Linked DNA regions of Homo sapiens: region 1 is linked to region 2. Evidence: fine-mapped expression QTL. A gene starts in region 2. The other region holds a variant in brackets. All regions are shown on one strand. Distances are between the middles of the regions.

Region 1 (4,382 bases), 87 kb after region 2:
TATGTCCCCTCAGCTCCTATCTCTGTATGGCCTGGTTTTTCCTAGGTTATGATTGTAGAGCGAGGATTATTATAATATTGGAATAAAGAATAATTGCTACAAACTAATGATTAATGATATTCATATATAATCATATCTAAGATCTATATCTAGTATAACTATTCTTATTTTATATATTTTATTATACTGGAACAGCTCGTGCCCTGGGTCTCTTGCCTTGGCAGCTGGGTGGCTTGCCGCCCACAATCCCCCATGATCCTCTCCTTTTGATATTCATGTCCTTATATTATCTCCTCCCCTTAAGTGTGGACTAGACTTATGTCTTTGGTTTTTCACAAACAGTAATAGAGCAAAAGTGTTGGGATGTCACATCTTAATTCATAAAACACTGTTTTTGGATTTGTGCATTCTCTTGGATCACTTGTGCTGGGGGATACAAACTGCCATTTTCTGATCAGTGCTATGGAAAGAAACAGCAAGAAACAGAGGCCCTGAGTCCAGCAGCTTGCGAGGAACTAAATACGGGCAACACCTATGTGAATGAGCATGGAAGTGGATCCTTCAGTCCCAGGCCAGTCTTGAGATGACTCCAGCCTCAGTTAACAGCTTGGCTGAAATTTTAGGGCGACTTTCAGCCAGAGCCATCCAGCTAAGATGCTCCTGGATTTCTGACCCACAGAAGTTGTTTGTGGTTTTAAGCTTCTCAGTTTTGGGGTAACTTTTTATACAGCAATAGGTAGCTAATACCCTCACTAAACTCAGATGCCAGATATTTAGGGAACAACATTAAAATGTCCCAATGGTCCTTCAAGAAGATAATGCACAATTAGTAGAAGGAAAAGAGAAGCAGAATTCTTGGGCTGGGTTGGCCATTTGGCCTGAGGAACTCAGTGAGTGGTTCCACCTGACACATGCATAACACATCAGCGATTAAACCTTTGGACTTTTTTTTTTTTCAACGTGGAACTCAGGAGTGGCTGGGATTGAAACTCAGCTTTACCTTTGTAGCCATAAACTGACCACCTTGTCTCATCATCTTGCCTTGGGAGAGAAGAAAACTATGGTGAAATCAACATTTCTCAAGTTGCTAAAGCCTCCTGGCAGGCAGGAGCTAAATGGTTCTTTTTCCTCTGCCCCACTTTTGGTCTCAATGGCCGAGTTTCCTGACTCCAAGAAAACCACCTTTGATTATATAAAGGTATTAGGGGCTGGGGAACACTGGTCTTTTGTTACTAGCAATCTAAAGCGCTTAGGAAGAAAAGCCCTGGGGGTGGGGGTCACCCCTGGAAAGTTGGGCGGGCTTTGTGTTAGCTCCAACTCTGGGGCTTTTGTGGAACCTCGGAGAGGGAGGAATTCTTAGATTTCTGAAAGTTGTGCGAAACGGACCCCAGAGGCCTGGAAAGGCGCGTCCCCAGCCTCCAGGGTTTCCTGCGCAGCCCTGGGCATCTCGGAAGGGGGCGACCCCAGCATGTCCCAACTTCCCGCCAGCAGCGGAGCGCGGGGGTGGGCGGGGTCGGCTGCGCGCCCTCCCCTCCTCTCCCCTCCTCCCCCCGCCCACCCCCTCCCCGCGCTCTCCCCTCCCACTTCCCTTTCTCTGCCTGGCCGCCCCGCGGGCGCGACCTCTCGGGGCAGTGACGAACTGGGTGGAGCCCGCCGCCGCCGCCGCCGCCGCCGGGGAGAGCGATGCCCCGGCCCCGCCGCTCCCCAAGCCCGCCCCCGGCCGCCCGCGGGCCCACGGGCCGGCGGCGGGAGTGAGCGGGAGCCGGCGGGCGAAGAGCCGCCGCCCGGCCCGCGATGTCACCATTGTTCAGCTGGGTGGCCAAGGTAGGCGGCGTCGGGCGGGCGCCCGTTACCGGAGCGGAGCGGCAGGCGCGGGGCTGGAACATTTGTAACCTTCGGGCCGGGGCTGGGCCGGGCCGCTGGAGGCCAGGCGCGGCGGGGGGCGAGCGGCGGGCGCGACCAGGTCGTTAGCCGCGCGTTTCTCATTCATTAGTCTCCCAGATCCCTGTGGGGAGGACGGGCGAGGTAGCGGCGCCCATTTCACAGTTGGGGAGACTGAGGCTGTACTCGGGGACCCCTGCGGGAGCCCGAACCCAGCAGGCGGCTCCTCCGGCCCCTGTCGCTCCCCGCGCCGCGGAGCTGCCGCTCGGTGCCTCCCCGGCGCGGGACCTCGCGGAAGTCGACC[C/T]CGCGTGTCTCCCTCGCGGGTGTCGCCCTCGTGTGTCTCCCTCGCAGAAGTCGGCTTGCGCTGGGCCGCCTGGACAGGGCGCCGAGGATGCCCAGAGGCTGGTGCCCACAAGGGGCGTCTGTCTTTCGTTTTTAACCCTCTGGTTTCAAAGGGCATGTTCTGAGGTCTGAGTTTTAAATAGAAGTTTTTAACTTTCCATTCCCACAAAGTTTTATTTTCAGAACATCAGCGCCTTCGAGATAACTGGGTGGTGCAAATCCAGGCCAGTTGCACTGTTGCTAACAGGAAGGCATAAGTGTAGATTTCCCGAGTTCCCACCAGTTCGAGAACACAGTAATAGCATCAATAGCATTCTTTTTATCCACTCCTGCAGTGCCAGGTGTCTGAATGTGTTTTAAAGGATGCGACCCTCGCCACCTTGAAAGGCTCGCTGGTCGTTAGGGCATCTTGCTGTCACCCCATGCACTCAGTCCCTTGGCCGGCGCCTTCCCAGGGCTTGTTTCCTGTGTATGGCTGGTTGAGTAATAAGCTCACAACTCGTTAGCCATACTGTGAGGCTTTACCAATTAATAATTTAATTAGGTGGTGGTTATGTCTTGAGTTATCATGCAATGCTTTTATAGTCTTATTTAATTACATTTTTATGAATACCTGTTTGTGAGCAGGTATGGCTTTGCCTGTGATTTAAGTGATACAAAATTGGAGACACAGAAACTAGATAACACTAGTTTTTAGATGGGCAAAAGTTTTTAGGTAGATTTTCTTACTAGGTAAATAACATTCCATTAGAATCACTTCCTGAAACATAGCTGGTGGTAAAATGAGATGACTTTCAAAAACGTTTTGAGTCATTAAAAAGTCATTTCAAAAACCATCACAGACTTTTAGGACGATTGTTAGCCTTCTCCGAGTGTCAGTACGTTGGAAAAGTTTATATAGAGGAAATGTAGGCTGGTAGCTTAATTTGGATTCTGAATCTTGTTATTTCAAAATTATTATTTTTGAGACAGAGTCTTACTCTTGTCACCTAGGCTGGAGTGCAGTGGTGCGATCTCAGTTCACTGCAACCCCCACCTACCAGGTTCAAGCGATTCTTGTGTCTCAGCCTCCCCAGTAGCTGGGATTACAGCTGTGCGCCACCACTCCCAGCTAATTTTTGTATTTTCAGTAGAGATGGGGTTTTGTCATATTGGCCCGGCAGGTCTCGAACTCCTGGGCTGAAGTAATGCCCCCACCTTGGCCTCCCAAAGTGCTGGGGTTACAGATGTGAGCCACCACACCCGCCCTCAAAATTATTATTTCGATTACAGGACAACAGCGGAAAAACTATTAAATGTTTTTGGAGCAAATTCATGTATACCTCTTAGCATACATTTTTAAAATGTGGTTATTTTATATTTCATTTCCTGTAGGTGGTGCATGCATTACAAATTATATCCCGAAATTGAATGATTTTTATAGATAACGTGTTATCCTGTGAAAGATTTTAGAATACGAAATTAGTCTTTGGAAGTTTATTTCTTGGAGTTATAGATTGTAAGAATGATGTTCTATGGAACTGATGTGGTTTACGGTGAAGAGGCAAGTCATTAACACACTTTACATTACAAACTAGGTAATATCCTAAAGACAAAGACAAAAGGCATAGATAATGTACACAATGTGAATAATCTTGAAGTTGTTATATTTGACTTCAGAATGCCCCTTCAGAAACACACAGCTGCACATGAGCACAGGCCTCACACAAACACCTGCACATCCAGTTACGCAGCTGACTTTCCTTTTCCTTTTTCATTTTGACCTTTGCAACTGCAGCTGAACACCTGGTGGGGAAGGAGAAGGGGTGGGTGTCGGTTGATTCACATGGATACCTGAGCACGAATGTGTTTTTCTTTTTTTTTGTTTTGAGACAGAGCTTCGCTCTTGTTGTCCAGGCTGGAGTGCAATGGCACAATCTTGGCTCACTGCAACCTCTGGCTCCTGGGTTCAAGTGATTCTCCTGCCTCAGCCTCCCGAGTAGCTGGGATTACAGGCTTGCGCCACCACCCCCGCTAATTTTGTATTTTTAAATAGAGACAGGGTTTCTCCATGTTGGTCAGGCTGGTCTTGAAGTCCCGACCTCAGGTGATCCACCTGCCTCGGCCTCCCAAAGTGCTGGGATTACAGGTGTGAGCCACCGCCCCCGGCCAAGCATGAA
Region 2 (4,382 bases):
CCCACTAACCCTGTAGGCACTAACCTCTTACTTTTCTCCTTAGTCAAATGGATTTAACAATCTTTGCCCTGCAGAGTTTTTGAGCAAATTAGCAACAATATATAAGGACAGTATCTAGCACAATACCCCAAATCGACTAACTCCTCCGTAAAGAATAGCTACCACTATTGTGAGAGTTTTAAGTCAAGCTGTGAATAAAACTCTTGGGTCCACTTAAAAATACCTCCCCTGGATGTAAGCATCCAGGGAAATCAGGGAATGCCATAAGACAGCCCTAATCTAAAAGCCTACAAGAAGCTCAGTGGGCTTCAAGGAAGACACTGCTCTTGGTACGATGAGGAAACCTGGCCCTCTATTTGCCTCCTGGGCCACAGTAATATTGATAATAGCTGCTGCTTTTAGTTGAGGACCATGTACGTCTGTGTCACTGCACTGGCCACTTTACTTACACTTTCCTGCTTTGTCCTCACAAAGATCCTGTAAGGTGTGTATTGGTCCCATTTAGCAGGTAAGACAATGAAGACCAGAGGTCCAGCACCTTGCCTAAACCACACCTGCTGGGATTTGGATTCAAGTCCAACCGTACAGCTCAAACGCTCAGCCACTTCCCTAAAGTCCACCCCCAGCTACATTAAGTAAAAAAATCCAGAAAGATGCCACCTGGGGGTCTGGAACTGCCTCCTCCGAGCACCCGGCTCTCCCCTCCCTGCGGACTCTTCTCTGGAGAGGATGTGATGCTTCTTACTTTTCTCAGATCCCTCTCCCCACCCTGCGAGTGACGTTGCGCCTCTGTGCCTGGTGGGATAGGGATCTGGGAGCTTCGCCTGTTTTTTGCACACTGCCATCCCCTAGTCTTAGGGAGCGAGCTCTGTCCCGCTTTTCACATCTCCGCGTCTTTCCTTGCACTCTACATCACCGCTGGGAATGTCCCCAGACCTGATCGGGGCATGCACACTGGGGTGTGCGTGTGCGTGTGGTGTGTGTTCCTGCGCGTGTGCCGGGCTCGCGGGGCAGGAAAAAGCGCCTAATCCAGGCTCTGCGTCACTCCCGCAATTGGTTAGAAATGGAGTTTCCTGGTGTTTAATCCCGGGAGGGCACTTCGCCTTCGTTGTTTCCCAGAGTCCCTGATTTTCCTGCCTCGCATGCCAGCGCCCCATAGGGCATCCGTGCCTCAGTTCACCTCTTGCCATCCTCCAAGGACGGGGAGAAGGGGTAAGGCGGGGGAGAGCAAGGTGGCTTGGTCGCCCCCGGCCCCCGCCCCCCATGTTGTGTGCAGTTTCCACCACGTCTGTTTCGGAGGGAGAAGAGGAGGGTGCAGATGAGGCGAGGCGCCTTCGGGAGCGCGGAGAGCGGGCAGGCAGTGCCACCTGCTGAGAGCCACTCAGGCCGAGCAAGCGGCGGGCAGTGCCACCTGCTATAAATAGGCCGCCAAGGACAGGGTGTGCGACTGTACATCCCGCCACGAGGGCCTGCATCACGCGCGGGGCCCCGCGCCCCCGGCTCCCCAGGGAAACGCTGTGCCCAGATCCTGCGCAGGGGTCTGGATGGGGCGGCGGCCCGAGTACTTCCCCCCTATTCCCCCCACAGACACTGGCTGAGGATGGCCCGCGGGCTTGGGGGCGGGGGGTGGCAAGGAGGGGAGGGAGGCCGCGGCGGACCCGCAGTGCAGCAGCTGTTGCTCGCGTGTGACTCGCCCGTCCGGGCCGTGCTGCCCAGGCACAGTCACACGGCGCAGTGGGGAGGAGGAGGACACCGAGTCCCCCTCCCAGCTCCCCGGGGACCGAGTGGGGAGATCCCGGCTCCTGTCTTCCCCTCGCCTCCAGCGCGCTCGCCCAGGCTGGGAGGAGGAAACCAGAGCCGCGCGCAGACACCTCCTCCTTCTCCTCCTCTTCTTCCTCCTCCTCCTCCTCCTCCTCTTCGGCTGCTGCTCCTGGTGCCGCCACCGTCCGCCGGTGCCTGTTGCTGCCGCCGCCGCGGGACCTGCTGTGTCCTCAGCTGGGTGGAGAAGAGGCGGGCGCCGAGCCGAGGGGAGCCCCCTCCCCGTCCCCCCGCGGCGGGAAGAGCGCAGCCAGCCGGGTGCGATGGACTCCCCGCCCGCCCAGGCCGTCCCCAGGATGCCCCCAAGCACCTGCGCGTCCCGGCCCGGCCCCGGGCTCTGAGCGCGCCGCGGCACAGGTAAGGCGCTTCCTGGGGCTTCGTCCTGGCCACCCTGCTGGCTCCTCTCGGGGCGTCGCGGCCGCCCCCTCCCGCAGCACGCCCCTGCCCCGCCTGGCCGCGGAGGGGAAGGCATCTGGCCGCCCACGGACGCGAGGCCAGGGTCTCTCGGGGGAGGAAGTTCATTGCCATCTCGTTGCCCCCCTTACCCCCCCACCCCCGCCGCCCTTGGACGAAAGCGAAACCTTAATGTTGCTAGCGACCCGAGAGCTCCGCCGGCTTCTCCCCCAACCCCCGCCAGCTCACTGGTCCGCGCATCTCTCCCCTCCCCCCTCCCGCCAATTATCCTAGCGTGTTTGCAAGGCGACCAGATTGGAAAGAGTGTGGTCAGAGTGACCCCAAGCCACGCTTTAAAAGTTCAGGGTACTTTGCAGTAGTAACTTTGGCAGCTCCACCAGTGCGCGCAACATTTCTTTCTATGGGTACATCCTGTACCAGTCATTTTGAAACCCTGCTTCATTGTTTCTAGCCGCTTCCTGATGGCTCTGTGATTATGAGACCCCCCTCAAACTTCACCAGGCATTAAGGTTTTGTTTTTGCTTTTTTTTCAGAGAGGTATCATTTCGTTTGAAATCCACCTAGATGTGGCTTTTCCTGTTTTGATTTTACTTAACATAGCTTATTCTCTGGAAGTTGCTTTAAAAAGAAATTGAAAGTGATGGTTGTTCCTTCCACCAAACAGTTTAATTTTCAGGGTGCCTCATATTAATGGATATGTTTTCCCTTCATAGATTTCTCATTGTTTCCCTTATGATGGGATGATTTCATTTATTAATAAAATCAGACTTTGAAAGAGCATTTAAAAATGACCTGGTTTAAATAGGTCACACCCAAGAAACTCAGCTATCTGTACAAGTTCAAACTTCTAAACTTTTTCAATGAGCTAGGGGTGGTGGCACCCACCTGTAGTCCCAGCTACTTGGGAGGCTGAGGCAGGAGGATCACTTGAGCCCAGGAGTTCGAGGCCATAGTGAGCTATGACTGTGCCACCTCACTGGAGCCTGGGTGACAAAGTGAGATCCCATCTCTTAAAAAAAAAGAGTTTAGGGGACATTTTCTGAAGTGAACACAAGTAGAGCATTCTAACACTATTGAGTGCAAGGAGACCTGGAAGGGACTAAGTGGTTCAAAGCAGGAAATAAAATCATCAGGTGATAATTAAAATAATTTCTTTCCTGTGGATTTGTCCAGCCATTTGCAAACCAGGAGAATAGGAAAAAAAATCACTAGTGTAGTTATAAATTATTACATTACGTTTTCAAAGGAAAATTTTGCAAATGCGTCTCCTTGTCATAGTCTATTGTTATCTACCCCACTGAGAGTGCTGGGGCTTCCCCTTTTCACCACGACAGCATTTCTGGTTGGGTGGCAGTCATGCAGTGTTGACCTGGTGTCCCATAAGGCACAGTTTGTCAAAACACTAGTGGGTATTAGGAGGAAACGTGCAACTCTGAAGCAACAGAGCTTGCCCCTTCTTCCTCATTATCCAGCTGGTGATAATCCCTGTCCCCCACTTCCCTAGAAGACAGCTTTGACCAGGAAGGCTGCAATGACAATGAGATGTACCCCTATGCAGAGCCAGATGTGGGCGGGTGGCTTTTTTGTGGTCCAGATCTTCTAGGATCTTCTAGGATGTAACCCTGGCAAGCAGTGGGGAGCCTGAATCAAGCAGCATGGCTGTTACCTCTTCTGTGTTCACAGCAGCATCTTCAGTTGTCTTGGTGCCTGGAGCAGGCACCACAGCTGCCTGCTCTGTTGGCCACCAGCTTTCTAGAGTAGATGGTAGGGAGGAGAGCAAGGGGCTCAAGAGGATTCTGTCTTTGAACATGCTTTTAATTTGATCTGACAGAATGGCAGCTCCCTGAAGTCCTTCCTACTCTCTCCACAGCATTTCTCTGTAGGTCCCCAGTTTTTGCTCTTTTCAGATTCCCAGAGGACTGAAAATGTATCACGGCCCATTTGGGGACTTCCTGTATATGTGTGGGTGCCTCAGGATCATTTGTTTTGCCCTTTTCCAGTCTACCGTGCTGCCCTTCTCAAGTTTAATGACCACGTTAGTTTCAATATTTTATATATTTCTCAGCAGTTTTCATCTCTTGGTCATTAAACTTGAGAAGTAAAATCTGCTCATTAAAATGACTGAGTCCATGGCCAGGCATGGTGGCTCA

The links. PIP is the estimated chance that this variant, and not a neighbour inherited with it, causes the effect.
Region 1: its variant is fine-mapped to the expression of TBC1D1 in monocytes after Pam3CSK4 (Quach 2016, PIP 0.95).

What each region holds. Positions count from the first base shown.
Region 1 is chr4:37,975,706-37,980,087 of GRCh38, forward strand. All of the region lies in intron 2 of TBC1D1 (TBC1 domain family member 1), which reads left to right. Among named protein-coding and RNA genes, the nearest start is that of PTTG2, 17 kb to the left of the region's middle. RefSeq lists silencers at 1,484-1,553, 1,624-1,743, 1,864-1,913, 1,934-2,233. The variant C/T (reference allele first, on the strand shown) is at 2,186.
Region 2 is chr4:37,889,174-37,893,555 of GRCh38, forward strand. TBC1D1 (TBC1 domain family member 1) reads left to right here and starts at 1,911. Exons shown (of 22, transcript NM_001396959.1): 1 at 1,911-2,175. RefSeq lists silencers at 1,430-1,619, 1,940-2,439, 3,469-3,518 and enhancers at 3,219-3,348, 3,779-4,058.